7 separate regions of the Homo sapiens genome follow, and all the other regions are linked to region 3. Evidence: fine-mapped expression QTL. A gene starts in region 3. Each other region holds a variant in brackets. All regions are shown on one strand. Distances are between the middles of the regions.

Region 1 (4,450 bases), 140 kb before region 3:
CTCATTAACACTTGCATTCGGTTTCCACTGCTGCCGTAACAAATTACCACAAGCTTAGAGGCTAAAACAACACCTGTTTATTATCTCAGAGTGCTGAAAGTTAGTGTCTTTCTTTGCTTCAAATTTCACAAGGCTAAAATCAAGATGTCAGCCTGCTGGGGTCTTGGAGAGCTGGTTGGTTAGGGGACCGTATTCCCTAGAGCACAGTAAGGGAGAGGGCTTATGGATGCGTTATTAGAGGCTCTCCCAGTTTCTCCAGGTGTCAAGGCACATGTAACATTGGGATTTAATTTCACGCCCTACGCTACACTTACACATGAAGTGTCAATATGTGCTTGTGGCAAGAAGGGAAAAAAGGAGGCTTTGGTCTTATTACTGTCTGTCTAATCTTGTTCTGAAACTAGTAAGGGGCAGAAATCAGAGTTTTAAATTTCTCCTCCTATCATCATCATCATCCCAAAAGACAACCTTTGTAATTTTTTTTCAGATTTTTTGATTCATTTTGTTTTGTTTTGTCTTTGTTTCCTTGTCTCCAGAATGCTTTTCAGTCACTAAAGCCAGCTAAAGAAAATAGGAAGAAAAAATTTTAACTACATATAATGGGAAAAACTGGTTAATCTATCAAAAATTTTACATTAATGATAATCTGTTCTATTTTAAAATAAATCTCTTTCCTTGAGAGTGATTAAATTTGAGAGGTGAAAAAAGTAAAATAACAGTTTCAAGAAAAGTTAGAAATTACAATTCTGCAGCACGAAGCAGCAGCAGCAAGACTCAGTCAAAGGCTATTCAATCAACTCACTGCACATTTGCTATGCTAAGCATCACCCTAGAGCCGGCCACACACAAATCTCATTTGATCAAAATGGAAACCAGGGGTTACAGAGGTCAGACAATGATAAATGCCCAAGAACATAAATAATAAACACAAGTCACCAGGTTTCAGAAGCCAAGATCTTGAAATGTAAAACCCACTTACGTTCAACCAAGGGAAAGATGTGACCTTGGAACCAAAGCAGCCATGCTATGATGGCACTTGTCACCATTCATTATCAACAAGCAATCAAACAGAGCACATGGAAGATCAGAGTGAAACACAGCAGCCTGTTACTCTATAGTTTAAGAGAAAAAAGGGCACAAAAAATTGCCAATGAACACAATATCCCTGTTTTAAGGAATACATCCAGAATACTGGTCATGGAGTGCCAATATTCTAGAGGTAGACTCTAAAACTGGGATATCATTCATTCATTCATCACTTATGGATATCCACTATACATGTTCTTTACATGACATGTCAGACACTGTCCTTAGTATGGGAACACAAAGTTGAATGAGACCCGTGACTAACCTCGCACTCACAGCCCAGCAGGAGACACACAGCCATGTAATTACAATACAATGTGGTGAGACAATAATTACTTATATAAGATGAATACATATGAGATAATAAAATCATGTACAAGGAAAATTAACTGCAGGGTGAGTATACAATGGCTTTACTAAAAAAATCGTTAAATAGCATGTTCAAAAAAACTTTCTCAAAATACATAAATGGGAGATAACAGAGCCTTAAATCTGTATAAAGTACATGTCTATCAGCTCAACTGCTCTTAAAGCAAGTGAGTAAATTTCCATGTAATAACACAGAATGTAATACTCTAAGTCCTTTACAATTGAACACCCTATTGAAGTCAGTGTTGCCTAACAGCTAACAAATACTCAGCTAAGCAATCAATATTCATGGAGAACTTCCAGAAAGGGAAGTAGTCCATTCAGTCTTTCCACCTGCCCCACGTGAGGGGAAAGAGGAGCAGAGAGCTGAGAATCATGCAGTGTGGTGCCCTAAGAGACTGTTCTTTTGGAGTCTCCTAGAGTTCTAATAGAATAAACCCTAAATTTTTTTAAATAAAGGACAGCATGCAATAATTGGAGCTGTGCTGCATCTTATTTCACACTGGGTCCAATGTTGATTCAGAGAATGGTTTCTCTGAATTGTACCCTGGTGTGCTGCCTCTTGCATAGCCAGATGGTCACGAGGAGAAATAGCCCTATCTCTCATTCCCTCTCAACATTCAAGCTGTCCATTCTCTAGGATAATCACTCAAACACTTTCCCCTTCCCCACTCCCCTCTCTCTCCTATTTCAAATGTATACTATGCAGTCTGTATATGCTGACAAGCTGGATGAGATCCCATTTTGTAGGAAGGTAACAATGAACCCAAACAGACCCTGCTCTCTGATGTCGCACAGTCCACTCCTAACATACTGTATCCTAAACACTCCATCACTGAGGAGTCA[G/T]GGTGACAGTCCTCTCGGACTCTGCCCCTTTGCCAGAGTAGAAGAGGTAAAGCAGTTAGACAGCCTTACCACTTCAGGCCTGTCAATCTTAATCACAGCACTGATGTAACCCGGAGAGCAATGACAGACCCTTCTTACTCTCTGACAGTCCTGGCTAAATGCCCTTGGCTGCTTTCATCCACCTTGGCTGATAACTTCTCAATTTCATCAATTTCCTTGGTAACAGTCTCAGAATTAGGTTCTGAAACTCTAATAGTGCCCAGCCAATCAATATCCTAATCTTCAAAAGATATATATTAAATTCGGGGTCCAACCTTTCATTTGTCAACTGTTCTTTCAGAGTCTCCTAGAGTTCTAATAGTAGAATAAACCCTAAAAAATTTTTAAAAAGAAAGGACACCATGAAATAATGAGAGTTTGCTGCATCTTATTTCACCCAGAGTCCAATGCTGACTCTCTTTTGGAGAACTTAAGAATGTTACATTGACATTTAATAAAGTTTCCTGTAGGCCAAATAAAAGGACTTAAAAGCACACACAGTTTTCATTAATATAGCAAAACAACCTCTTGATCTAAGAGAGTAAAAACAGAGTTGGTCATGTACCATTGACAACAGAGCCACAAAGATCTCAAAAGTGATATAACAGGTCACTCCTGGGGAGTTCTAGGACTCAACATAATTCACATATATGTTTCAAGGAATCCAGGACTTAGGTTATGGCTATTTGTGCTTTTCCCACTGACCCTGTAAACAGATCTATGGCCCTCTAAGCAACATCAAGAGGACATGGCTTTAATTTGCTCCTTCATATGAGTCACAGAAGCCTTAGGACCTCAAGTAAAACCACCATAATAGAGCTATCTTGCAGTGGCGACAAAAACAAGGGCCTGTCACTGGAGTGATCTACAGGGAGGGAGAGATAATTACAACTGGCCCCGTTTTTCAGCAAAAGTGAATTTCAAGAAATCTCTGATGGACCATGTGGCTTCTCATAAAGTGTCACTGGCCCTGGGAATATTCCTCATTTCTCATCCATGGACCCTGACACCACTCTAAGGTTACAGAAATGCAATAATAACAGCTAGCATTTATTAAATGTTTGCAATGTGACAGGCACTGTTGAGGACTCTACATGTGTTTACTCTTTTAATCCTCTTAATAACTCTAGGAAGAACTATTATAATTACCATTTTATAAATGAGGAAACTGAAACACTGAGTAAACAACTTGCCCAAAAGTACAGAACAGCAGCTCCAACGAACTGAAGCCATTCCATCTTACACTCGGGCCAAGCTACTTTCTAAAATATTGTCTGAGAAGTAATGCACAACTTAAATTTCAAGATTCTTACTCTCAACTAATACTCTTCTCCCAACTCACTTTAATATTCTGACTCCACCAAGACACCCAATTCATTGACCCTACTACCTTTTCATTGTCCCTCGCTGATGCCCCCAACCAATGTCATTTCCCTCACTATTCATTATAATCATTCACTTGCAAGTGTCCTCAATTTCCTTGCACATCCTTGCTTCCATAATATCTACAGGAAAAAAAAACACCCATGGGTAACTCCAATTCCCCGCATTCTCCATGCTAGCACCCAAGGAGCTGAACATAACTGGAGGCTCACATTGCACAACCATAGGTGGGCTTGCTTTACATTCATTAGCAATAACCCAAGGGAACCCTTGGTATCACGCAGAATCCTACATTTTATTCCGTCATTCTCCTTAATAATTCTTGACACTTTCTCCTCTGTCCTTAAACTTCCAACAACTCCTTTCCCTTCCTCACTCTCAGCTGAAGATCTTCATTACTTCACTGAAAATGGAAACAATCATAAGAGAAATGCGTATGCATCCTGGCCCCGTCGACCAACCTGCTTGCATCTGAGCTTGTGTTCTGCCTTCTCTCCTGTTGCTGTGGAGGAACTGTCCATGTTCCACTTAGGCTCATCCCTTTCTCATCTATTCAGGAACATGGTTCCAGCAACCTTCTGTTCTCTTTCCTGCATCATGAAGGTTTCCCTTTTGACAGAATCATTGTTGGAAGAATGGTGGCTTTATTTCTCCCATCTTCAAAACAAAACCAAAAAACTTTGACTCCCATACCTGTCCATTTCACTTCTGTGCTTTGAAATAAATC
Region 2 (4,450 bases), 57 kb after region 3:
TTTTCACAATTAATTAACTAGTCATAAAGAAGAACCTGAACTATGTGCTCCCATCCCCAACCCCAGGTCTAGATCTTGTAAAAGACTGACCGGCAAGGTCACCTTTACTGAGCTGTGTGACACAGATGCTTCGAACAAACTGAAACAGAGAGGACTGCGTATGTGGTATGTGGCAGCTTTCCAGTGACTCTTGAGTGCAAGCTTTAGAAAAGAGGCTGAAAGGCTGGGTGTGGTGGCTCACGCCTGTAATCCCAGCACTTTGGGAGGCCAAGGCAGGCGGATCACAAGGTCAGAAGTTTGAGACCAGCCCAGCCAATATGGTGAAACTCTGTCTCTACTAAAAATACAAAAATTAGCCGGGCATGGTGGCGGACGGACGCGTATAGTGCCAGCTACTTGGGAGGCTGAGGCAGAAGAATCGCTTGAACCCAGGAGGTGGAGGTTGCAGTCAGCTGAGGTTGTGCCACTGCACTCCAGCCTGGGCATCAGAGGGAGACTCTGTCTTAAAAAAAAAAAAAAAGAAAAAAAAAAGAAAAGAAAAGAAGCTGAAAATGGGGGCTGGGGTTGGGGGGCACAATGGCAAATTAGTTCAATCCACCCTAAGATATATTGTTGGTTTGATTTTGTTTTTTTCTGCACATCATTTTCTGAAGTTTGAATCTGAATGCTTTAGGACTTTAACCACTCATCTCAGTTGTCATTATACACAATTAATTAATTAAGAAGTAGATTCTGCTATTAAGACCAAGACCCAAAGTACCTGTGACTTCAATAAAACAAGAGTTTGTTTTTCTGTTATGTGACTGCCCAAGCATAAGCATTACAGAACTGGAATAATGGGTCTGTGGTGTGAGGGACTCAGGACCCTTCTATATTGTTACTCACCTATCTCTAAGGCATTGTGCTCATTGGAGTGGTTGAGGGTCACTCATTACCACTTACCACCAGGTATAGATTGCAGCTGCTAAGTAATAGGGAAGGGGAAGTGGGGTGGGGTGGTGGTGGTGGTGGGGTATGTCCATTCCTCATCATGGTACATTCCAGAAGTTACACACATCATTTCTGCAAATATCTCATGGGCCAGAACTGTGCTTCGCCCGGTTGCAGGAAAGCCTGAGAAGCATGGTGTGTATTCTGAGCAGGACTCCATCACTAATATTGGAAGTGCACCGGTAGCCTCTGCCAACCTTTTACCTGCTCAGAGTTTCCTGAGAGAACAACATAAGTGACTTTTCTTATTGCCCATCACAGGCCTACCCAGTACAGGTATCCCCAGGTGAATGTTGATTTAGTTTCTCGGGAACAAAAGTGGCTAGTTAACTAATGCTAATCATATACAGCAGTTTTAATGTACTAAAACTATAAAAAAAAAACAAAGGAAAGCAGTGCCACCTTTTGTTTGTCTGCTAGTGGCTGGCTCAAATTTGGCTTCATAGCCTTGTAACTGAACAGAGCAGAGGCAGTGCTCACACTCCTTGCTCGACTCAGAAGCCAACTACAGTCTGCAAAATCTGGTTTTCAAAATATGCAAATTAAGGTCAAACAACCCTACATCTGAGATTTAATGGCTAATCTGTTCAGACAGCTGCTTCTTAGCCATTAAATTACAAGGTGACTGAGTTCATTAAGATTTTCACACACAACTAACTCCTCAAATTGTATCTCATACTTTTCTAAGACTTTCATGGGCAAAGCTAGTCAGATGAGCTATGGTTATAGCAGAAAGAGGCAATCTGTCGCCATTTGTTTTCCAATAGACAAAGAGGCATTATTTTCAGGTTGATTAAAACTGGTCACTCAAGCCAAATTCCAGGATGAGGTCATGAAGATCAGTCACTGTGAGGTTTATTGCCAAAGGCAACTGGGGGAAAAAGAGTCCAGTTTTCTTTGCTGAAAGACATATTGCCAAAATTCAAATTAAACTTTAAAATTATACTACCTTTCTCCATGTTATCCCATATATATTAAAAATAACAAAGCCAAGCACAGGTCCTTAAACGTTAGCCTTATGCGTGGACATTGTTTAGTATTTACATTGGGTTAAATACTAAACGTTGGGTTAGTACCATTGGGTTAAACCAGTCATT[G/T]TTTATTATTTCTGCTGTTCTCTTTCTCTTCTCTGAAAATGGAAACCTATTTATTTTATAAAACTACACTTACAAGCAAAATATTTTGGAACATGTTTCATTCTGCTCATATAATGTACTTAACATTATTATTAAATATTAGAGAATTTTAATAAATGATAACTTCACCACTCATACTTTCTGATATTTAGTATAAACTACTTTATTTCCACCAAAATGTCTTACCAATGAATTAAAATTACTGTGAATTCTTAAAACACCTCTGACTCTGGTAATATAAGCATGTTATAAGAAAATTTCACAAGCTAAAAACAATAACAAAATAGCTCTTCTACCAAGCAAGAATTTGGAATCGACAAAGAGTTTTAGCACTTTGGGAGGCCCAAATGGGAGGATTGCTTGAGGCCAGAAGTTCAAGACCAGCCTGGGCAACATAGCAAGACTCCATTTGTACAAAAAAAAATTTTAATTAGCTAGGCATGGTGGTGTGTGCCTGTAGTCCCAGCTACTTAGGAGGCTGAGATGGGAGCATCACTTGAGCCCAGGAGGTTGAGGCTGCAGTGAGCCATGATTGTGCCACTGCACTCCAGCCTGGGTGACAGAGTGAGACCCTATCTCCAATTGCCTTTAACACTTTTTGTTAAGAGACAAGGTCTTGCTCTGTTGTCCAGGCTGCTGTGCAGTGCAGTGGTACCATCAGAGCTCATAGCTCAGTGCAGTCTTGAACTCCTGGACTCAAGAGATCCTCCTGCCTCAACCTCCCAACTAGCTGGGACTACAGGTGCTTGCCACCACACCCAGCTAATTTTTCAAAATTTATTTTAAGTTTTTTTAGAGATAGGGATCACACTATGTTGCCCAGGCTGGTCTCAAACTTCTGGCCTCAAGAAATCATTGTGCCTCAACCCCCTAAGTAGCTGAAATTACAGGTGCAAGTCACAGCACCTGGTTCAATTTACTCCTAATGTAGCATATATAGTACAAATTTAAGGAGCAAAATGAACTAGCATTGTTTGAACATAAACACGAGTCATTCAAGGTGAAATAATTTATTGCTAAAACCATGAATTGTTAATTTATGAGCTCATGATTTTTTTAAAAAGTGATCAGCGTTGGACTAAAACTGTCTTTTCTAACCAGTATGACCTTGAAATTCACAGGGCAAAAAAATGACTTTAAGTTGTAATTAATAAAAACCAATTATACAATGAATTATCGTGAATTCAAAAGGAAATAATTATGAGGCTTTAAGAAGTTCAATTGGTTCTTAGAATATAACAAAAAAAGCTTGAAAACATTTGAAAAAGTTCTATCTACTTGCTTCATTATTTATAAGTGAGAAAAACTGTCAGTAACCTAAATATCTTTTTATATGGTATGCTTAAAATGTCATTAAATGCTGCACTCAAAAGAATATGAAATATTAATAACATGGAAAATTATTACAATAGAATTCTAACTATAAAAAATAAGTAATCAGGTGTTTTTCCCTCAAAGGAATAAATCACTGATCTGGGAAAATAATTTTGATTGTCATCGATAGAAACTGCGAAACACCCACATTTGATGCCCGTGGCCCCGTGCTGTAATTTTAATAGTGAAATGTAGCAATGTAAACCTCGATTGAAATTTTCTCGGGTGGCATTTACTTGAAATCCATGCACGTTAACAACTTCTCCTCCCAGTGGGTCCCCAGGATCCTAGATATGACAGGTTTGGTAATGAGCTGGACTCTGTGGGATGCAGACGAGAAGCACCTTCATTTTTCTTCACTTTGATCATTAGGTATCTTCTGTCAGATCTCACTGCTCTGCCTCTGGCTGACAGCTTAGGCATCTCTCCTAGATTTCCAGTCCCTTTCAGATGTTAAAAGGTTTTCTTTTCAGGCAAAGTATTAAGAAGTCCAGTGTGATAACAATGAAAACTTTGATCTCTCTGGAGTCTCTCCCCCGCCCTCCACAGACCAGGAGTGGGGAAGGGGGTGGTCTCCTCCGTATCTTCACAACGCCTCCATGTGGCTCCTCCACTTTTCTTCTCTCACTCACTGTGCACCCTTTTGGCTCCTCCAGGGTTAGAGGAGGTTGGCAGGGAGAGGACAGGTAAGGGGGTAAATAGGTTTGACTCAATGGGTGCTGTTGTAACCTGGTGTTACTGACCCCTGCATGGCAGATGTGCCAAAGCTGGCTTTCTCTTTTGGGGGTTCTTTGAGGACTCTGCCCTCAGACACGTGCATCACTCTATGTGCTTGATATGCTCCCCCAGTAGCTGCTTACTCCCACTGCCCCAGTCATGTTTCTGGTGGGATATTCCACAGGCTCTTTGAGCAAAGGTGGCCACGCTGGCCTCACCTCGAGGGAGGTACA
Region 3 (4,450 bases):
TGCCTATTTTATTCATACAGTACACCAAAGAATGTTACATCATCTTGTAAGTTACAATATTTTCCTGATTTCATTGGGCGGGTGAGAGGAGAAATATTTTGGAACATAAAGAAAAGTTAAAAATACAAAATGTACACCCTCCCCGAAAAGAGTCTATTTTATTGGTCTTGAAAGGAAATACCGAATGAGAATCGAACTGAATTTTGCTCAGTATAATTACTGGGGAAACAATATTCAAAACAACCTCCTAAAGGAAAGGGTTAACAATCTTGTAGCTTTAACTGATTATTTTTGCTCCTTTCTCCCGCAAAAGAATTACACCTATGAAACTGGAATTCTGTACACTAAGAATGGCAACATTAACGCTGAAACTTTTAGCCAGGAATAGTTATCCTAGTGTGCATAAAACTATGTAAAAACTGATTCACAAAAGGAAATGCCCAGGGCCTACCCCATTATGATTAACTTCTGAGATGAAGCGACTAAGAGAGGATACTTGGCAGCCTGAACTCGATTTCTCAGAAAGCCAGCTCTATCAGAGCGGGGGCGGGGGGGCGGTTTCCCTTCACCAGACTCAGCTGTTGCCTTATCTAAAATGCCTTAGCGATCTAAAACTGAAAGAGAAAGATAAACAAAACAACAAAACGCTCCGGATTTAGATCTCCTTTAGGTAGTTAACACTGTTGCAAAAGCAAAACAAGCACGCAGGCGCGTCGGTCAGGTTGTCACTACAAACATACGTACCTTCTCATCCAATGTAAGGAAGAGGATCTCTGCGAGCTCTGCTGCCTTTTTGTTTGGGCTCTCTAGGTTAATGTAGTGATTGCATTTTAATGACCCACAAACAGGAGCAAAGTTATTACTGGGTCGCTTTGAGAGATGTTTACTTAAATGTGAGGATAAACCCAGGTCGCTGTAGAAAGGGAAAATATTTTCCGTCCAAACGTAGCATTACCCAACTACGAACCCACGCAAAACAATCACAATGACCCATTAATGCGTTTCAACGAGTGAACTAGTTCACTTCCCTAATAACACTGTCAAGGAAAACGCCTTCAACAAAGTCGAGGGAAACCATGCCTTCCACACTGGTGGGACGCAGCTGGTATAACCCATTCTGCCCCTCTTTGAGAGCTGCGGGGCACCCAGAGGCTTTTGGAGAAAACCGGTTTGGGGAAGAGTTTTGGGGTGCTGCTGGGAGCCGGTGTGCTGAGTAAACTTAGAAACGTCAAACTCAACTTTGCTTTATGAAGGAACTCAAAGTTAACTCACCCTGGTACGTCCACCCTCTCCCTGCGCGCAGGGGACAGCGGCCTCTCCTCCCCACCGCGCAGAGTCGCGGCCGCCGCCCTCGACCCACCGGTGACAGCCCTCAAAGCGATGGACCCCCGCACCCGCCCTGCCGCCAACCCCCGGAACGCGCTCCGGGCCGCACCCACCTTGATGCCCTGCTGCTGGGTGGTAAGGGTTAACTTGGATTCATCCAGGAGCAAAACTTCGCAGTAAAATTCTTCCGGAACAGCGCAGAAACAGCCCATGTCGGTTGTGGTCGTCTCCAGCCAGGAGAGAAAGCTACCACCGAGGCGCCCAGCCGCCCCCTCCACTCAAGCGCGATGCATTAATTTATTGTCCGCGCCGTGGCGAGGGTGAGACGAGCAGCTCCCGGCGGGGTCCGGGGACCGGCCGCCGAACCGCCCGGCGGGGCGGGAGCGAGAAAGGCGGAAAAGCCCGGGAGAGTCAGCGCCCGGGAGCCGCCGGGGAAGCGCCGGCGGAACTGGGCGCGGAGGGCGGTGGCGCGTCCCCGCGCATCCTGCGGCTCGAGCTCCTCCGAAGGCGGGGGCGCGGGGCCCCTCCCGCAGTCCTGGGGACGACAAAAGTCTCCTGGCACTGGGGGCAAGAGACCAGAAAAAGGAGTGATGGGAATTCGAGGCTCTCCCCGGCCTTGGAAAACCCTGGAAGCGCTGCACCTCCCTCCTGCCGCACGGATTTGAGCGCGGCCCCGACGTCCTGGCGTCCGATCGGCCTGCGGAGTCCCCCGCGGGCGCGCACTTCCAGCCGCGACCCCGCCCCGCAGCCCCGGGTCAGATCCGCCGAGTATGAAGCGCTCGGCTTTTCTTTTGTGTGAGGAGCACCCACGACGCCCCGACCATGGGCGCAGGGGCAGAGGCGAAGGTCGTCGCTCCGTCCGCTACCCCGTCCCCCAGCCGCAAGCGCCGAGGAGCCGGAAGAGAGGCGGAAAGGGCAGCAGGCTCCTTACCCAGACCAGCGAGGGGAGGTCAGCTCGTCGCGGGGTGTGGCTCCCGTCCGGGGACTCCCGAGCTCATTACGGGTGGCCGTGTGTAGCCAAGTTCAAGCTCTCCCTCCGGGAATGCCTGCCGCGGCGGCGGAATACGGCTTCTTCAGGACATTCAGCAAAGCGGGGAGGCGGGGACCTGCGGGCGGAGGAGCGACGCCCCAGCTGGGAACGCGGCGGACGGGCGAGCGGGGGGTGCGCCCTGGGCGCGCCAGGCCGCAGAGGCTCCGGGGAAAGTTCTCTTGGCCGCGCGAGTGGTGGCGCCCCGGGCGGGAGCAGCCCAGGTGCATGTGGGCCCGGTCCAGGCGTCTGCAAAAAGCCCTGGAACGAAGCGGACCCCCCAGTCCAGCGCTGGCCGCGGCAGGGGAGCCCCTTCTGGGCGGGGTATCAGCTGGGGGCGGAGGGCGGGGCAGAGACCGTGGTCCCAGCGGCGAGGTGCCGGCGAGTCCACGCTGCCAAGCCGCACACTGCGCCCAAGCCGCGGGGCAGTCCAGCGCTCGCTGCGTCCTTCCCCCGAGAGACCTGGAGGCTGGGTGGGGAGAAGAGGACGCGGTGCTGCTCGGACCCCACGGTTCGGCGGTCCCAATCCCACGCCCTCCGCGCGGTCGGCCGCGTCCAGGACTGAGGGGCACAATAGCTCTGAAGCTGCAGTGACCCCTGGTGGGTCCCGATGTCCGTGCACAGGCAGCCGAGGTTGAGCTGCGGACGACACTGAGCCCCGCTGGGCTTCGGAGCAGGTGCAATCTGTGCTCTCCAGCTGGGAACCAGCAGCGAGTTAATGCGAGTCGCAGTTAGGGGAGACACGAGGGGAGGTGTCACAGAAAAAAAACTCTATATTGAGTTTTAGAGTTAGAGCTTTGGCATCAGACGTAGTTTTGAGTTGACTATTCTACTGCTTGTTAGCTGGGTAGCCAAAGCTCAAAAAAAATTGCTTAAAACCTAGGACGTTAGCCCTTAAAACAAAACCAGGCTTCCGTAGCACAGTAGAAATGAAATGAACAATTGGCGACTTTTGATGGAGTTTCCTCTCATAGTGATTTGCCACAAAGGACCTTCTGTAGGAAGCCTCGGCCTTCCCTGCTATTGTGACCCCATCCAAACACAGGATCAGCATAACCGCCAAAGTGCAATATAAATTTCTGAACTTTACCTAGGCTATGAATAAAACTATTTTATCTTCTGAATTTTCTGTGAAATTGACTCAGGTTTTGAATTTCTGATCAAATTTCGTGTCCAGCTTTGTTTTATTGTCAAAGTCTTGCCTGCCTTATGAGGTGACACCTTATTATGCTAGATTTTAGCATTTCTGCTTGTAGAGGCTTTTCTTTTCTGTAATACAGTATTCCTGACAGGAGTTACCAAATGTGATTGAAAGATGGCTTAACATTTTCATTCTTTACCTCCATATCCAACCGAGACACTTGAGGCTGCAAAAACAAAAGGTTCAAGCAATCATCTGTTCCCAGTTTTTTTGAGTTTTGCTCTCACCTGTTTTTTGGCCCTTTGATTTGGTTTTTTTGCTTTCTGATTTTTGGTTTTGCTGTTGTTTGTTTTTGTTTTTTTACCTCCAGTGGCAGTGAGAAGGCTGAGGGTTTTGGATGGGCAGGGATTCTGTTCCCAGCTCCTCATAAGGTAAGTTACAAAGCCATAAGGTCCCATACATATGACACTCTTTCCTGAGTGAAGCATTTTCTTTTCCATTTCTTTATCGGAGACTGGAGAAAAGAACATTTAAAATCTATTTAACACAAAATTAGAGATTACTAGTGACAAGAGGATTCCACAGAGTTTCTAAGGATAGCTTTATTGCATATAATTTACATACAGTTCACTGCATAATTTTTAAGTGTACAATTTGATAAGTTTTGACATAAGTGTGCACCCATGAACCCACCACCATAATCAAGCTAGTACACATATTCATCCCTCCCTAAGGTTTCCTCCTGCACTTTGTCATCTTTCTTTTTTTTTTTTTTTTTTTTGAGACAGAGTCGCGCTCTATCAGAGTGCAGTGGCGCGATCTCGGCTCACTACAACCTCCACCTGCCGGGTTGGAGCAATTCTCCTGCCTCAGCCTCCCAAGTAGCTGGGACTACAGGAGTGCGCCACCATGCCCTGTATTTTTAGTAGAGACAAGGTTCCACCATGCTGGCGAGG
Region 4 (4,450 bases), 290 kb before region 3:
AAAGCAAGTGAGATGACAGCTCTAAGAATACATATACATTCACTTTTTGGAGTCCCCCCAGATTATTTCTACAATTTGGAAGAATTGTAGAAATGATGAAATGTACAACAAAAATCACAGAGGTGAGAATTAGTCCCCGTGGGTGTGCTGCGATTGAATATAAGAGAGAAAGTGATAAATTTGGAAAAGAGAAGAGGAAGCATGTCTCTTTAGGCCACAGAAAATAACATACAAACTAGGGAAGAGCGTAGGAAGCGTTTTTCTCCTACTTCTTGCCTCCCACAGGAAATCACTAATACTTTCTGAGAAAAGGGATAAGCTGTCCAGTTTCTACTTATTAATGAAACAGCAATTTCTAGACTTAAGCATATTAGTGAGCACTGTTCTTTATAATAGCTCCAGAAATTTCTGCTTAGGAACAACGACAACAAAAAAACACCACCACCTGAGAGTAATCCCCATTGTTTCTAGGGTAGACTCACCCTAATTTAAGTGTGACTCAAAAGTGTGACTCTAAAGAACTGCAAGCAGATTAATGTAAGAAACTCCTGCTAAAACCCTGCTAAAAACACTCCAATATAATGTAATCCTCCTTATCCATGACTAATTGAAGCAAAATGGGCAGCACACAGAAATGTGTGCTTTCAAAAGGAGCATGTTAAGCTTGAATGTGACATACAAGCCTTTTCGAGAACCTTTACTAGACACAGTTGAGTGGAGGTATTGGTTCCCCCATTTCCCTTCATTTGCCCTCTTCTGAATGTGACCACTGTGTAGGAAGAAGGTCTAGCCCCTAACAGATCTTGGTCTGGCGTCCTTAATCCAGAGCAGCACTTTAAGGGGCCAGGTCAATTATCAGGGAGAAAAAGGCGAGGGCATCTTCCTTCCACTCTCTCCTCCCCCAAACTAAACCTTACTTTTGGGATTGTACCCAGAATTAACCTGGAAGCCCAATGATCACAGCAGACAGACCTAGATTTGATCTGACAATAATCCCCAGGATTGACCACCAAGCTAATTTCCATCTCTAGAATTTCACCACCCACCAGCCTTCTCCTAAGTCATTTTCACTAGATAATAATGAAAAACATTCAGATCTCTAGCACAATCGCATTTTCTGATTCAGAGGAGGAAACAATGTCACTAAAAGTCAGAAGGTATTTACAGAACTTCTAATCTCATCTGTCCCCTATTAACAGTAATACTTGATTCTTTATGTAGTTCTGTGTTTAATAATGCCTCCAGAGAAATAGGTTCTGATCCATTTGAAAATTTTGGAATTATTGTACAATCTTTTTTAATTATTTAGAGATCTTTTCCTACATTTGAAGGCTTCAAAACAGTAGAAAAATATGTTCCCATGAAACAGCATATATTCAATATACTACCATGCCGAAATTTTGGGAAGGGTGTCGGCTTGTATATGTGTTATAACCTGAATGAAAAACATGGCTACGTGATTTAAAATATCTAACTTTCATTACCACTTGGTGTGCAAGGAAGGCTCTGAAGGATCTGTTTTCCCACCTCTGTTTTCAGATCCCCACTCTCCACACATTTGCAAACTCAGATCGCATTGTTTTCTTCACATGGAGGAGGGGATATGTCCTCCCTGGTTAGCATTTTGACCATCAGAAGACTAGGATCACTACGTAACTGATTATCCATATGTTTCTTGCCTGATAATTAAGATTTATATTTTTGCATGAAATCTCAATAATCCAGAAATGCCATGTGACATTAAATATTTCTGTGCTCTTCTTTCCTACTTGTTATGAATTGTGTCCCCATCCCCTAAAATTTATATATTGAAATCCTAATCCCCAGTACCTCGGAATGTTACCATATTTGGAGATAGGGTCTTTTCGGGGATAATTAAGCTATAATAAGGTCATTAGATTGGGCGCTAATCCAATATGACTGGTGTTGTAAGAAGAGGAAATTTGGACACTGACAGAGAGGGAAGACAGTGTAAAGATACGAGGGAAAAACGGTCATCTACGAGCCAAGGC[A/G]AGAGGCCCGGAACAGATTGTTCCCTCGTGGCCCTCAGAAAGAATCAACCCTACAGGTACCTTATCTTGGACTTCTAACCTCCAGAACTGTGAGAAAATTAATTGCTGTTGTTTGATCTACTCAGTTTGTGACTTTATTACGGCAGCCCTCGCAAACTAATACACCCACCAAAGGAAGAAGAGTGCAGGAAGTTTCAAGATGCCAAAAACACAGATTGTAAAACAGTAGGAAATGGGGAAGTTCATTAAGATGACACGTGGGAGCCAACAGGTTACATAAGAGTACAACTGTTATGCACTCCCCATAAAGGAAAGGATTAATTTTAGGTCCTGCTGAACCATGTAAAAGGTGTAAATTAAAGAAAATTATCTCTCTGACCCTAGGCATAAAGGAAAAAAAAATAAGAGAACTTGTAAATATAAAGTAGAAAAAGAAATCTGCCATATTGAAAGTATATAAGGGCATTGAGTTAAAATAAGTAGTCCTAACATTTAAATATGTAAGACATTTTAAGATCTTTGAAGTTTCTCAGTGGCAAATCCTAGGATCTCCTTATAATGCTGAAAAAGTCTCACTAACTGACTTACTCTTTGGAAAATGATGGTAAAAATTGTAGATGATTGTAACACTGTGAAACCTAGGCTGACAAATCCATTTCAATTCGATTTATTGAATCATTGATAATAGATTTTTCCTAACATAATTTTTTAAAAAATGAAATACGTAGCAATTCCCTTATCATTAACACTGATATAAATGACAACCTGGAACAAGTCATTGATTAATTCTGGCCCTCTGCTTCCTCATTTATAAAGTGGAAAATATATATATATAGGTTATAGCTACATAAATATCTGAGATATTCAGGTGGAACTTTTCATCTTCTTAGGTAAGAGTCATTAGAGGTGGCACAAGCAAGGGGCACACAACATATGAGTTTTATTTTTGCTGTAGTCATTCTTATTGTATCATCCTGCTCACAAAAATAAAGAAATGTACCATCTAATGTTTCATACAAAAAAAATCATTTATCTGTCATTCATGTTGTAGAGAAATTTGAATTCTCTTAATCATCCATTGTGATTTTGTCCTAAAGCATCAACCTTATCATTGGTTTTCTATCCATTAGCCAGAATATTAGGTTGATTATTATCCTCCAAGCACACTCTTTGCCAAGATCTACCATTGTTTTTCATTAGCCGAGGTTCTGGAGGGAAGGAGATAGAGCCTATATAGATGATGGATGGGGTTAAGAACCCAAGGACTAACAGGATTGTATAAGAAGCTACTGCTGGGTGATATATGCACATGTTGGAGTAATGCTCACTAAAAGTGAGGAGGCAGCATGAAGCAGTTGGCAGGACAACAGGCAGCCTAAATTACATCATTCATTTAACAGGTCTAACATATGGCAACTATTAAATCTCCAAAACAAATGCAAAGCTAACCAGCGCTCTCATAGAAAAGACACTTTCATTCTTGATTTTTCTAATAAAATGCTTCAGTCTAAGTTACTGCCAATTTCAAAACAATAATAACATATATTTCTAAATCCAATAACAATATAGGACTTGCTAAAATACTAATAGCCATCTGATAATATATAAAATGTTAAATATTCTTGTTTTTATATCTTTCACAATTTTTTTCAGGAGCTCTGTAGGAATAATTTAATGCTTTAAAGCAACAATTAGATTCTGTAATACATAAATCAGCTCATAATTATTTTCAGAATGAAGGACCCACAAATGCATTATATTAAAGCTGGCCTTTGCTTAAAACAAGTGAAACACATCTTCAATTCTGTCATTTTCCAGTTAATCTCACTTGTGATGCAAAAAGCATAGGAGAAAACTCCAGTGATCTTTTAGGGAAACTAATTTTACTCTTGTTCTACACAGTCTTCAAATAATTACCCTATACCCTGATGTGATTATTACACATTGTATGCCTGTACCAAAATACATCATGTACCCCAGAAATATATACACCTACTATGTACCTATAAAAATTAAAAATTAAAAAATTAAATTATTTTTAAAAATAATAATTACCCTAAGCAGGAAACAAGAGAGACAATAAAAGAGAGCAAGGCACAACACACTCTTACTTCATGAATAATCGTTGGAAACTTCTTATTGTACTTAGGTAAAACTCTTCATCTAAATAGTGTGTCTTCTGGTTAGCTACCCTCAAAAGTCTCAGGTCCTCTGTGAATACTCCAGAAGAGTGAAGGGCCTAGGACTACTGGACAAACAACTTTACACCAAGATTCAGACTCCCAGAAGTTAGTGCCTTCCTCACCGTCTACCTATTCTATGCTTTATCCTTGTCACTTCCAGGCTTGACCCAAGTGTTTTTCTCCCTAGTCCTTTGGATTTAATCCCATCCAGCTTAGCCCTTTGCCCTTTGATCTGACTTTTCCTTTCATCCTACC
Region 5 (4,450 bases), 82 kb after region 3:
CCATCCTATCAAGGAGAGGACAGACCAACTCCCATGGAGAGGGAGATGGCTTCTGGGCCATTTAGACCTTCCTCTACCTTCTCTACTGCTGTACCCTGTGGCCTCCAAACTACCTGCCCCTACCTTATAGTTTTGTGCTTATATCACTCCAGCTTGGGCATCAAATTACCTGTGCTGTTTTTCTCTCTAGATCACTTCTCTGCAAATACTGGTGGATGCCTGGAACTTACTTTAAAAGGCCAGTAAGTAAGTGGAATAAAAGTACCCCAGGATGACTAAAACTATCAGACCAGTGCTATGAGCATGATCCTGTTTCCTCACACTCTGGTTTAAGCCAGTCTCCCTTTCTAGAATGAGAGTGGCAAGACAACTGGGCTAAAGAATCAAGTCCCAGACCTCTGTCCCATCAGGTTTCCTGAGGACACTACCATGTTGCCATAGCTTCCTGGCATGGCTTTTAGACAGCACTTATTTTTTAATAGTTGTATTGATACATAATCAATGTCCAATAAATTACACATATTTAAACTACAGGATTCAATATGTATACATATTCAATTTGTGTGACATATGTATAGACCTGTGAAACCATCACGGTAATCATGATCACAAACATATTCATCATCACCTCCTGCTCCTTAGCCCCACATTCCTGCACAGGCCACCAGTGATCTTCTTTATGTCACTATAGATTAGTTTGCATTTTCTAGGATTTTAGATAAATGGAATTATACAGTAATGTACTCTTTTTTCCTGGCTTATTTCACTAAGCATAATTATTTTGAGACTCATCCACATTGTACTATATATTGATAGTTCATTTCTTCATATTTTTTAGCAGTAATCCATTTTATGGATATATGACTATTTGGTTTTGCATTCACCCCTTGAAAAATATTTCCAGTTTAACTATATGCTGTGAATATTCATGTACAAGTCTTTTTATGAACATATTCTTTCATTTTCCTTGGGTAAATGTGTAGGATTGAGATGGCTGAATCATCTGATAGATATTATGTTTAACTTTTTAAGAAACTACCCTTATTTTCCCAAGTGGTCATACCACTTTATTTTGTATTTCTGTCAGCAGGATATGAGAGTACCAATTCCTTCACCTTCTTGCTAACATTTGGGGTGATCCATGTGTTAGCTCCTATGGATGGTGTAACAAACTACCATCAATTTGGTGGCTTAAAAGAATAGAAATATATTCTCTCACAGTTCTAGAGACCTGAGGTCCAAAATCAGTATCTGAAATCAAAGCATGAGTGGGGCCACACTCCCTCTGGCAGTTCTAAGGGAGAATCTGTTCCTTGGCTCTTCTGACTTCTGGTGGTTGCCATATTCCTTGGTTTGTGGCTGCATCACTCCAATCTCGGCTTCTGTAGTCACGTTGCCTCTTCTGCAGGTGAAATCTGCCTCTTCCTCTCTCTTGAAAACACTTGTTGATATAGACAGGAGGCAGCCAAGGATTCCCTGGCAAAACCCTGCCTTCAAGTCTAAAACAGCCTGAAGGCTGAAAAACCAGACTGCTAACCCTGGAGAATCTCCCACTGACCTGTGCACTGGGAGGACAGAGTGGGGCTTTGGGAAGTTCCTGCCATTTGCAATGGGGAGGACTCTGGCCCCTGCTGTTCCTGTGTGGTAACCTGGAATTTAGTCTATGAGATGGGGCCCT[A/G]TTAATAGGAACTCCTATCGCTTTGTTGAGAGTCTTTTTCCTTTTTGCCCAATAAATTACATAACACCTCACCCCTCAAAGTGTCTGTGTCCCTATTCTTTCCTGGTTGTGTGACAAGAACCCAGTTTTTCTTACAACATTATGGTAGCATTTCAGGTCCATCCAGGTAATCTCACACTTAATCACATCTCCAAAGACCTTCCCCTCCTATTTTTTTGGGGAGAGGGGGGCATATAAGATAATAGTCAGAATCTATGAATTAGGACTTGGCTATCTTTGGGCAGGAGCCATTCTTCAGTCTACCATAGCCAGTCTTTTTAATTTTAGCCACTCTAACAGGTTTGTAGTGGTATCACATTGCTTTTAATTTGCATTTCCTCAGTGAGCTAACAAAGTTAACCTCTTTTTATGGGCTTATTTACCATCTGTATATCTTCTTTGTTGAAGTATGTGTTCAAATCTTTTGCCCATTTTTAAATTGGGTTGTTTGTTTTCTTATTTTTGAATTTTGAGAGTTCTTTATCTATCCTGCATTTAAGTTCTTTATCAGGTACATCATTTGTAATATTTCTTCTAGATTGTGTCTTGTCTTTTCATTCACTTAACAGTGCCTTCTTTGACAGCATTTCTTGATTTGTATCATCATTCATCCTTTTCACACTTTCTAGATTGAGCCCCTTAAGGGCATGGGCTACAAATTATTTCCTCTACACCTTCAGCACCCAGCATAATACCTGACACATAGGAGATACTCACTGAATGCTATTTTTTTCTTCTCACTTTACTGCTCTTCCCTTTCATAGGGTCATATTTAAAAACCAAATTTTTTTTATATTAATAGTAAGATATTTCAGTGTGCTCTAGTCTGCAGCTTATTTTATTTTACATTTATGGAGATATGATTCGCAAATGACAAAATTTACCCTTTTAAAGTATAAAATGTAGAGGTCGTTCCTATGTTTATAAAGTTGTGCCGCCATCACCACTATCAGAACATTTCATCATCCCCCCAAAAAATGCCATACCTAGAATTCATGCCCCATTCTTTTCTCCCCCATCTCTCCCACCAATTTGTTTTCTGTCTCTTATGGATTTGCCTATTTTGGACATTTCATATGAATGTAATTATACAATATATGGCATTTTTGTGTCTGGTTTAATTCTTTTAGAATAATATTTTCAAAGTTCATTCATGTTGTATCATGTATTAGTATTTCATTCCTTTTTATAGCTAAGTAATATTCTATTATATAGTTATACAGTCATGCATCACTTAACAGTGGGGACACATTCTGAGAAATGCATCGCTAGGCAATTTCACCACCATAGGAACATCAGAGTGTACTTATACTAACCTAGATGGGACAGTCTACTACACACCTAAGCTACATGGTATAGCCTATTGTTCCTAGGCTACAAACTGTATAGCATGTTACATTACTGAATACTGTAGGCAATTGTAACAAAATGGTAAATATCCATGTCAGGGTTCTGAGCCTAAGCTAAGCCATCATATTGCCTGTGACCTGCACTTATACATCCAGATGGCCCAAAGTAACTGAAGAATCACAAAAGAAGTGAAAATGGCCAGTTCCTGCCTTAACTGATGACATTCCACCATTGTGATTTGTTTCTGCTCCACCTTAACTGAGCAATTAACCTTGTGAAATTCCTTCTCCTGGCTCAGAAGCTCCCCCACTGAGCACCTTGTGACCCCCACCCCTGCCTACAAGAGAACAACCCCCTTTGACTATAATTTTCCACTACTTACCCAAATTCTATAAAACGGCCCCACCCCATCTCCCTTTGCTGACTCTCTTTTCACACTCAGCCCACCTGCACTCCAGTGAAATAAAAAGCCTTGTTGCTCACACAAAGCCTGTTTGGTGGTCTCTTCACACGGACATGCATGATAATCAGTATATCTAAACATGTTCAAATATAGAAAAGGTGCAGTTAAAATTTGGAATAAAAGATTTAAAAAGGGTACACCTGGGAGATTGCTGGCAAGATGGCCAAATACGAGCAGCTCCAGTCTACAACTCCCAGTGAGATCAATAAAGAAGGCAGGTAATTTCTGCATTTCCAACAGAGGTACCTGGTTCATCTCACTGGAACTGGTTAGACAGCGGGTGCAGCCCACAGAGGGCAAGCCAAAGGAGGGAGGGGCATCACCTCACGCGGGAAGCACAAGGGGTCGGGGAGCTCCCTCCCCTAGCCAAGGGAAGCCATGAGGGACTGTGCCATGAGGAACAGTGGACTCCAGCCCAGATACTACGCTTTTCCCACAGTCTTCTCAACTGCAGACCAGGAGATTCCCTTGGATGCCTACATCACCAGGGCCCTGGATTTCAAGCACAAAACTCGGTGGTCATTTGGGCAGACACGAAGCTAGCTGCAAGAGTTTTTTTTTTCACACCACAGTGGCGCCTGGAACACCAGCAAGACAGAACCGTTCACTCCCCTGAAAGGGGCTGAAGCCATTGAGCCAAGTGGTCTAGCTCAGCGGATCCCACCCCGACAGAGCCCAGCAAGCTAAGATCTGTTGACTTGAAATTCTTGCTGCCAGCACAGCAGTCTGAAGTTGACCTGAGATGCTTGAGCTTAGTTGGGGGAGGGGTGTCCACCATTACTGAGACTTGAGTAGCCAGTTTTCCCATCACAGTGTAAACAAAGCCACCAGGAAGTTCAAACTGGGCGGAGCCCACTGCAACTCAGTAAAGCTGATGTAGCTAGACTGCCTCTCTAGATTCCTCCTCTCCGGGCAGGGCA
Region 6 (4,450 bases), 130 kb after region 3:
TGAACCCACAGGCAAAGAGGAGGATTACTCTCCTGGCTGGGATGATTGATCCTGAATACCAAGAACAAATTGTGTTGTGTAAACTAAAAATAAAATCCTACCCTGCCCCCGCCAACCCTGGCCTCTCTACTGAGAACAGACTCTCTTGTAGCTGAGGGGACCCCAGAAAAAGCTTAAAACTGAGTTCCTGACCATCATGGGACAGCAGGTCAGACTACCTCATTAGACCTCCTTTTATGGCTTAGACAGAACAAGTGACCAGCCTAAATGTTAAAATAAAGATCATAAGTTTAACACAACAGACTCTTGGTGACAATAAGATACCAACATATAAAAAGGACCTAAGGCCATGTCAGGCAAGAGTTAAGTCACGCATCCCTACACTTGAAGAATAATCTATGTTCTAACTGCCACAAAATTTTTCTTTTTCTCCAGCAACTAAACAAGCACTGGCCTCAAGATAAGCACGATTAAAACAGTCACAACTCATCCAGCTCACAGACGCTGACTCACTGGACTGTTCCACCAGCCATAACTACAGTTTTCACTGGACAAGAGACTGACTTCAATAACTTTCCCCAGATAAGAAAACCACCAACCCTGGACTGGTTCTGGCCAGTTTACAAAGATTATGCACTTGCATCCCTTCATGTCTTGAAAAGATCTTTTGAAGTACAGGGCCTCATTATAATACACTTAAATGTTGCATCTCCACCCCAAAGTGAACATGGGTTTTATATTACTTGCATGTTTGTTCAAGACGTATGCATCAGGGCCACCTTCATGAATATTCACAGCTCCTCCTGTAACCTGTTGAATATGTATGTTTAGTCAACCTGTTCAGTATAAAACTTATACCCCAACCCCTCCTCCTTCCAAGTGCCTGTTTCTGGGCTCCAGCCAGAGGCTGTACTTCCCAGTCTGAAGGATGGCCATCTTATAGGCTGTAACACTTTAGATGAAATAGTCTCTTCTCCCGTTCTAAATTTATACATCTTGTGATTTTTAAGTTAACAGTTGCTACTGCAAAATGAAAGTAGGGAGGACCATGTCTCAGATGCTGGGGATTTTCTGGGATGTATCTTAGTACTTCCATGAGTAATAAAGTTAATGGAAAATTCCAGCAATTAAAACAAGAGACAACCACTGAGGTCTCAGACACTTAGGAATTCATTCCAACATTTATTCAGGAATTGATATTTGCATTACCCCTAAATACTGGGGCATGATAAACTAGCATCATCACTCCCCTTAGAACCAGCATCATCATACCCCCTAGAGACCCCAGCACCAACCAGTTAGCACCTCTCCTTGAAGGTCACGGTCCTACCTATTCCCTACCAGGGGCCACCTTCAAAATCCTGAGGCAATAGTACAATGCAATGACCCTCAACCCGGTCTCAGAGGTTTCAGTTTCAGCTCTGCGGGGCACCACCTCCTTCAAGCTTCTAAACTTTAACAACTCCAAACTCTTTCATGTATTCACCCAGTTCTAGAGCAGTAACTGCTTCTACGATTTCTGCCTTCTCAGTGTTTCCTTTCTGCCTTTTCATTTCTTGAGTACTTGATTAAAAAATCTTTACATGAAATCTCCCTGTTCAAATAATCAGTGTGATTTCTGTCTCTTGACTGTACAGTTGATCTTCCATAAACCCTATGAGATTATATCCATTTTTCAGATGAGAAAACAGACACATAGAACAGATGAGTAACTGGACCAAGGCCACACAACCAGTACAACACAGGAATAGGACTTAAACCCGGGTATTTCTCATTCCAAAGCCCTTGTTCTTTTAAACACTGCACAGTTCTGCAAGATGAAGGCAGATCTTTTACATTGTTCTCTGACCTCTTCTAGCAATGATACTGGTATTCAAATTAGACTGGGTGGAAACAAGGTAGGTCATGTAAATGCAAGAGCGAGTGCACCTGCAGCTTTAAGAGAATATATGACACAGGGTCCAAGTGAATTATCTTCCAAAACACTCAAGTAGCCTGCAGACATGATTGGAGATACTGTAGTAATCTCCAAGAAAACATGAGGAGCTTCTGGAACACTGAGATAGTTAAATATTTTTGCCTTTAGAAAATAGATATAGAGATATTTAGTCTTGACATTAAACCCCAGGAAAAACCTAGGATGACCCTGTGTGTACTTTTAACAAAAACTGCCTGTTCTCTGGTTGGACACATGGGATACATTCTGGAGGGACATCAAGAAGTGCTGCTGCCACCTCCAGCCAAGGGCTGGGCATGGGACTCAAGCCAATCGGATACTCTCTCCTTAAAATGTGATTCTTGATCAGAGAAACAAAAGACTAAAACTATTGTTGCTGAAACAGTAGCAGTACCATGAAAATACTGTTCATTAGTTTCAATTGCACATATTCACCTGAAAGTTACAAGGAGAAGACTATAACTTCTTTATGTTCAGGGACTTCATGTTCAGAGTTCATATTGTTAACCACTAGATCCAAAGTGCCCAGCACAGT[A/G]CCTGGCATAGAGTAGGTGCTAAATAAATATCAGCTGTGTGAATAAATAAAAATAATAAAGAATTTCCAACAATTTAACAATGCAATTGTTATATCATGAAGTAGTGAGTTCCTTGTCACTGAAGAGATTAAAATAGAGCCCATCTCTCAGCATGACAAAAAAAAATTCCTGCATTGAGTAGGTGGTCTCCAAAAAGCATTCTACTTCTGGCTTTGTAATTCCACAACTATTTCTTATTTACTCTTAAAAAACATATTTTAAAGTAAAAATAGAACACCATATTCACACAATATACAGAACACAAACTAGGTGGTCGGGACAAGAGATATATGACATTTTTTCAAAAGTAGGGTAGCATTTCTTCACATGCTCACAAAAAAGGCCAGCAAAAGCTGTTGCAGGAGATGTAAACCATCACTGGACTTGTTTGCAGTGACCTACACTTGATCTATTTCTAGTCTCAAGGAAAGCGAAATAAGAAAATGGATAGTTTGGTTGCCATGGTTATTCCCAGCCACCAGCTCACCTCACCACCCATTTTCCATCATTTCTAATAACCTAGTTTCCCAGAGTGATACTGTAGGAGCCAATAACCCAGGCTCTTTATTAAATGGTTTCCCCTGGTGCCACCCTCATCCAGCCACTTTTTACAGCTTTCCTTTGTCTCACCAGTCTTCAGCATGGCTCAGGAATGAAAAATACTCACCTAAAACTACCAAGATTTTTCAGTGCAGGGAAATCTTGTGCTTGGTTGCATCCACTTAAGATTCTGAATGGTTTATGTCTTCCTGAACTTTAAGGATAAATTCCTCTGTGGCCAAGGGGAAAACAGTTGAGATGGTGGGTTGCTATTTTCTTTAACATTGATTTTACTTACTTTATAATCAGCCTACTTTGCCTGGGAAAGGAAGGTGACATTTAAGAAAACAGTCTGGAGAATGTGCTATCTGGTGAAACTCAGCTAGACAGCTCTCTTGGTTGTTTCAGATTTCTTTAGTAGCTAACAAAGACAGTAGCTCAACTTTTGGCAGAAGCCCATGAGAATGGAAAGTATCCATTTGGAGTCTCTTAGGAGATACTTTGTGGGAAATTGTGCTTCCTTGGTAAATTCTGGTCTATATTACAGCAGGCTGTGGAAGTGTGGCTTTCTATACACACAGTTTTTTAAAAGGTATTGCTGGTGACACAGATCTACACATCTAAACACTAGGGGGCAACCTTGCCTTTTGTGTCACCAATCAAAGCCATTTTACAGAACCATAATATTTAAGGAAATACATGGAACCATCAAATCTCAGCCTTCTTCTTCACCAGTTTTATTTTAATATTGGCATCCAGATGTTACAAACGGCCAAAGGCCATTCTTAAAAGCAGATCCAAATTAGGGGAGGATTAAATGTATATAGACTTGAGTTTTTCATAGCATTCACTGGAAGGAACATCAGCAGCCTCACAACTGTTAGAATTCCCTCCCGCTCTGGGTGTGGACATTCATTGATTAAACGTTTATTTCAGGCAGCGGGGATTCTCTGGTGAACAAGAGACAAGGTCCTTGCTTTTGTGGAGCTTGCACTGAAGTAGAGGAGACAGATACTAACCAAGTAAACGAAAATAATTTTAGGTAATAATTTCAATGAAAAATAACACCGTAATGGAATAGAAATAGGGCATGAGGGGAAGAGAACAGTGCCAGGAAAGGCCTTAGAGAAGCTGGCATGTGACCTGAAGCCCAGATGAGAAGGAGCCAGCCAGACCAAGGGCTGGGGGAAGAGTGGTCCAGGCAGAGCGAAGAGCAAGTGCAGCAGCCCTGGGTAAGGACAAGCTTTGGGTGTTTCAGAATAGAAAGAAGCCAGTGTAGCCAGAGCATGGAGAGGGGAGGGAAAGGTGGGATAAAATGAGGCTGGAAGACCATCCGGGTTCAGACCACATAAGGACTGGTTGGCCAAGGAAGGAGATG
Region 7 (4,450 bases), 910 kb before region 3:
AAATAATGCTGTGATAGAAGAGCAAGTACTTAAATCACTGTTATCTTTCTGATAAATTCTTCAAGATAAGTTCCTAAGATAAAATGTTCTACAGCACTGAGTAAATGTAGAATATTAGAAGGGTCATGTATACAATGCTAAGAAATTCAGATTTTAGCAGTCATTTTATATCATTATTTATGACCTCCTCACCACCAACTCAGTCTACAAAGGACACGGACATTTTTAAGGCTCTGAATTCATAAGCCCAATTTGCTTTCCGGAAAGTTAAAAAAAAATCGCCAGGTGTGGTGGCTCATGCCTGCAATCCCAGCAATTTGGGAAACCAAGGCGGGATGTCAGGAGCTCAAGACCAGCCTAGCCAAGATGGTGAAACCCCATCTGTACTAAAAACTACAAAAAAAGTTAGCCAGGCACAGTGGCAGGTGCCTGTAATCCGAGCTACTCGGGAGGCTGAGGCAGAAGAATCGCTTGAACCCGGGAGGCAGAGGTTGCAGCGAGCCGAGATTGTGCCACCGCACTCCAGCCTGGGTGACAGAGTGAGACTCTGTCTCAAAAAAAAAAAAAAAAAAAAAAAAAGTTAAAGAACTCTTAAAAAGCTAAATCTTACTAGCAATGACTACTTAGTGACAATGGATATAAGTTTTGAAATGTCTTAAGAGCTGTGTAAGTCTATAAAAAGTTACTTACAGATATCCATTAAATTCTTCTGAGGGTTTTCTCCAAACAGTTACATCTTTCTAGAAAAATAAAAACATTATATGGTAATAATTGCATAGGTGGAACCCTAGACACAAAACTGATAATTTTATAAGTCTATAGAATTTGTCTTTGCATTAAAATAAAACCAGTACATTTTCAGAATACATAAAAGTCATCTATACCATAAAAGGATTTGTATTTGAATTTCTTCTGTATCCTAAAGTTCTTCACATTGTACTTAAATTACAGACCTCCAAAGAATATTTTCAGTAGTATTTAATGATATCCAAACACTGTAAGATTCAATGATGGCACTATCTTAGTCCAATCTTATCTATTTACCATTACTGATGCATTCAGACTCTAACACTAGGAACACTATTTCATTCTGACATTGTTCATAACTTTTAAAAAATTAAACAATTCACATTTATTACGACAGTGTTAACATGAATTTGTCCCTACATTTTTTCCTCATCATTTCCCAAGTAATTCTGAATATCAGAATAGCTAGAGCACTTAACTAGAAGTGTCCTGGGTTCTAGAATTAGTTCTAGCAACACTCAAGTCACCTATGTAATAGTTTGGGCAAGTCACATTAGTAAAAAGGAATACTAACTAGCTACCTTCATAGGCTTTTTGATATACCTGAAACTATTCCAAACTCTCAAGTACTACACTTTCTTAAATTAATAATGATACATTTTATTTGCTGACTTAAGAGGCCATTCTTTAGGTTCTAGTTGCCATGAGCCTATTCTCTTGTCTAATATCCAAAGAGCTAATGAAAGCAGTATAGGATTACCACTGATGCATTTCTTCCTCTGTGTGACATTAGACTATCAACTTTATTAGCTCAATTATTTTTCTTGCATATCCATCCAAAGTATGGTCTTTGTCCATATTGTTCCATTTAATTTTAAAAGTCATCAACCAATTCATTAGATAGAAGATATACCCCAAATATAAGTAATTGAACTAATTTACCGTTTTCTTAGCAACTCGCCACTTATCTTCTTCAATGCTATGGTACTGGATGAGAGTGTTTTTAAGTTTAGTTGCAAAAGAAGCAACATCAGACAGGCCTTCCATTACTTCTCTCTGTTATGGAGACCAAGATTAGCATCAGCAAATACCACAGTTTGAGGCAATAGGCCAGTGGGTCTCGAATCTGGTTTCACAATATAATAACCTACCAGAGCTATAAAAGATAGCTACCCTCACCCCAAATCAACTAATCATAATCTCTGAGAGTAGGACCCGGGCATAGTTTTTTTCTA[A/G]TTGCTCCCAAGATGAATAACCCATAGCCAGAGGTGAGAATTACATATTTTTTACAATTAAAATCACTCATACAGAAAGTAGAAGAGAAGACAGGAGGAAGGGGAAGCAATTGTATCTCATATATAGATATGCTGTTAACTCTCAAACATTTACCTCCAGTCCTCTTTGTTTCAATGAGCTCAAAAATCCCAGATCCAGAAGCCTACTTAAAGCTTCAAGCCTAAAGGGAATCTCTTGCCTCCCCTGGCTTCCCTCAATTTGTCACAGTATTCCTCATTTTAACAATTTACTATTAAAATGGCAATTGAGCCCAAGTTCTCAAGTCAAAAGGCTTGGAATTGCCCTTAATAAGAATAGGTTCCTTTTAACACCATCATACCTCATTGTCTACAGTATTCTACACTGGTTTTCTTTCTGTCCCTCAAACAGGCTAGCTTATCGCTGACTTGTGGTCTTTGATACGGCTAGATCCCAAATCTTAGCATCACTAATAACAATGTAATGCCAATTTCAGTTTAAACCTCCTATCCTTCATAAAGCCTTCTTAAGTTACTATTACATCGTTATTTTCTTCATAGTGCTTATCATTATCTGACAATATAATAACTTATTTATAGGTGTATGATTCTACTCTTTGACCACCTCATTCCTAACTAATAGCATAGAGGTCCTTTTCTTATTCACCACTATAACTCCACCACCTAGAACACTGCCTGGCACATAGTAGGCCCTTATTTTGTTGATATGTTATTGTCTCAAAACAAGAATTACTTGGTCTTTGTCTTCTTTTGGTGCCAGGGCACCAATTTCTTAGCATAATTCCTACTTTTCACTATTCTATCTCTATTCCTCCCATCTTCAGTAAAAGGCTAAAGAAGAAAAGAGTTTTAGGGGTAAAGTTGCCCATTACAGAACCATCAAATTGCTGGAAAGGAGGTCAAGAAAACATCTAAATGAAATCTCCTAATCTAAATGAAATCACCCTCTATGGGAATAAGGCTGCAGTTGTCAACTATGGATGCACACATCAGAATCACCTTTTTATGCTTTGTACTAGTTGTCGCTGCTTTTAGGTGTTAGATTTTAGGGCCCAGTGCCAAATAGTCTAATTCAGTGGCTTTGTTCTGGAATGGGCCTCAGAAATGTAGGTCCTTTAAAATAGTCTCACTAATTATTCTGTTGTCTAGCCAGAGATCAGAACTAACTGATCTAAAAATTAAAGTGACAGAAATAAATTAAGGTTGTAGCCAATATTTAAATACCACTAATTAGAGCATATAAGCCATTAAAATTTATAAATACTAAAATTATGTAGAAACATGGGAAAGTATACAAAGAAAATTCAATATAACTTTTAGGATCTATGTAAGTGATGCAAAATATATAATAAGTATAGATCCAATCCACGGATGAAAAGTTGATGAGCTCATTCAAAAAGTCTCTCAGTCAAGAATATACCTAATTTCCATTCAAGAGGCTGTCAACTTGATAGCCAGTTCAATAACTTTATTCAAGAGTATGCCACAAACAAGCAGAAGTTCTTGCAGAAGGCTTGTAAAAGAGATTTAATTTATCTATTACAGGGATCACTATGATTAAACATATTCTTTAAACCCAAAGGTCACCTGCTAGGTTCCTGTGGTTGGCAGATAAGAGTATTTATGCAAAACTTTTTGATAGAAATCAAAGGTGAAACAGAAAGTTATTATTATCATAAGCAAACATTATCACTGGGCAAATCCAGTGCACGGAAAGTTACCTAGAAAGCTAGCTACCTAGAAGAGATGAGAATCTGCAACTTTAAGGTACTTGACTTAGTAATTCATACTGATCAGTATAAAGTTCAAGCTCCTTACTATAGCTTACAGGCCCTTTTATAATGTGGCATATTTTCATTACCTAATTTCCACTTATCTTTCCTGGATTCCCCTGAACCTGGGTTAGTTCCCCCTCCAATATTTTCTGACAGCAACTCTGTACTGTAATTATTCACTTGTTATCTTCTCCCGTTTAACTGTAAAATCTTTGGGGGGTAGGAAATCTGGCTTGTTCAATATTAATTCTCCTTACGTCTAGCACTCAGTAGGAACACAGTGAATAAAAAATGGAAAAATGTATAGACAATAAGCTACCATTCTCACTTATGGAAGACCTCAAGATATCTAAAGTATGCCCATTTACGCCAATCCTAGAGCTTCTGAATAACTAAAACTTCCTTTACCATAATGAAACACCATTTCTCAAGAAGGACTACTATTAAATATTTATCAAGCATCTATTATATACCAGGTCCTAGAACTACAGAAACAGATGGAATTCAGATTTTACTCTCAAATTGACTTATTCCACCCTTAAGCTTTAACAGAAATAACAACAACAAAAACTAAAACATTAAAAAATTCTATTAATAGCCTTTTTAAGAGTGGTGCAGTGGGAGGTAGGAAAGGAAGAGAAAGAAGTACAAAAT

Direction of the effects. Positions count from the first base shown, and alleles are read on the strand shown. Sizes are in standard deviations (SD) of each study's normalised expression. Not every link is listed here.
In carriers of allele G in region 1, the expression in tibial artery of the gene that starts at base 1,776 in region 3 tends to be lower than with T alone (small effect, 0.36 SD a copy in GTEx).
As copies of T replace G in region 2, the expression in substantia nigra of the gene that starts at base 1,776 in region 3 goes down (moderate effect, 0.41 SD a copy in GTEx).
For the expression in adrenal gland of the gene that starts at base 1,776 in region 3, A is the high allele of the variant in region 4 and G is the other (moderate effect, 0.60 SD a copy in GTEx).

What was found.
Region 1: its variant is fine-mapped to the expression of EPB41L4A in tibial artery (GTEx, PIP above 0.99).
Region 2: its variant is fine-mapped to the expression of EPB41L4A in substantia nigra (GTEx, PIP above 0.99). The same link has a PIP of 0.9 or more in spinal cord.
Region 4: its variant is fine-mapped to the expression of EPB41L4A in adrenal gland (GTEx, PIP above 0.99). The same link has a PIP of 0.9 or more in atrial appendage.
Region 5: its variant is fine-mapped to the expression of EPB41L4A in whole blood (INTERVAL, PIP above 0.99).
Region 6: its variant is fine-mapped to the expression of EPB41L4A in whole blood (TOPMed, PIP above 0.99).
Region 7: its variant is fine-mapped to the expression of EPB41L4A in spleen (GTEx, PIP 0.99).

The regions. Positions count from the first base shown.
Region 1 is chr5:112,282,407-112,286,856 of GRCh38, forward strand. The region is part of intron 2 of EPB41L4A (erythrocyte membrane protein band 4.1 like 4A); the gene reads right to left. Among named protein-coding and RNA genes, the nearest start is that of SNORA13, 120 kb to the left of the region's middle. The variant G/T (reference allele first, on the strand shown) is at 2,302.
Region 2 is chr5:112,474,461-112,478,910 of GRCh38, forward strand. No RefSeq gene overlaps it. Among named protein-coding and RNA genes, the nearest start is that of EPB41L4A-DT, 57 kb to the left of the region's middle. The variant G/T (reference allele first, on the strand shown) is at 2,088.
Region 3 is chr5:112,417,502-112,421,951 of GRCh38, forward strand. It overlaps EPB41L4A (erythrocyte membrane protein band 4.1 like 4A), which reads right to left and starts at 1,776. Exons shown (of 23, transcript NM_022140.5): 1 at 1,440-1,776. The coding sequence starts at 1,538. It overlaps EPB41L4A-DT (EPB41L4A divergent transcript), which reads left to right and starts at 2,082. Exons shown (of 1, transcript NR_027706.1): 1 at 2,082-3,477. RefSeq lists a silencer at 2,441-2,530.
Region 4 is chr5:112,122,747-112,127,196 of GRCh38, forward strand. No RefSeq gene overlaps it. Among named protein-coding and RNA genes, the nearest start is that of EPB41L4A-AS1, 36 kb to the right of the region's middle. The variant A/G (reference allele first, on the strand shown) is at 2,013.
Region 5 is chr5:112,499,616-112,504,065 of GRCh38, forward strand. No RefSeq gene overlaps it. Among named protein-coding and RNA genes, the nearest start is that of EPB41L4A-DT, 82 kb to the left of the region's middle. RefSeq lists an enhancer at 4,005-4,450. The variant A/G (reference allele first, on the strand shown) is at 1,679.
Region 6 is chr5:112,547,917-112,552,366 of GRCh38, forward strand. No RefSeq gene overlaps it. Among named protein-coding and RNA genes, the nearest start is that of LINC02200, 78 kb to the right of the region's middle. The variant A/G (reference allele first, on the strand shown) is at 2,493.
Region 7 is chr5:111,505,640-111,510,089 of GRCh38, forward strand. STARD4 (StAR related lipid transfer domain containing 4) reads right to left here. Exons shown (of 6, transcript NM_139164.3): 2 at 1,690-1,803; 3 at 691-740. The coding sequence starts at 1,794. Among named protein-coding and RNA genes, the nearest start is that of STARD4-AS1, 4.4 kb to the right of the region's middle. RefSeq lists an enhancer at 3,545-3,664. The variant A/G (reference allele first, on the strand shown) is at 1,983.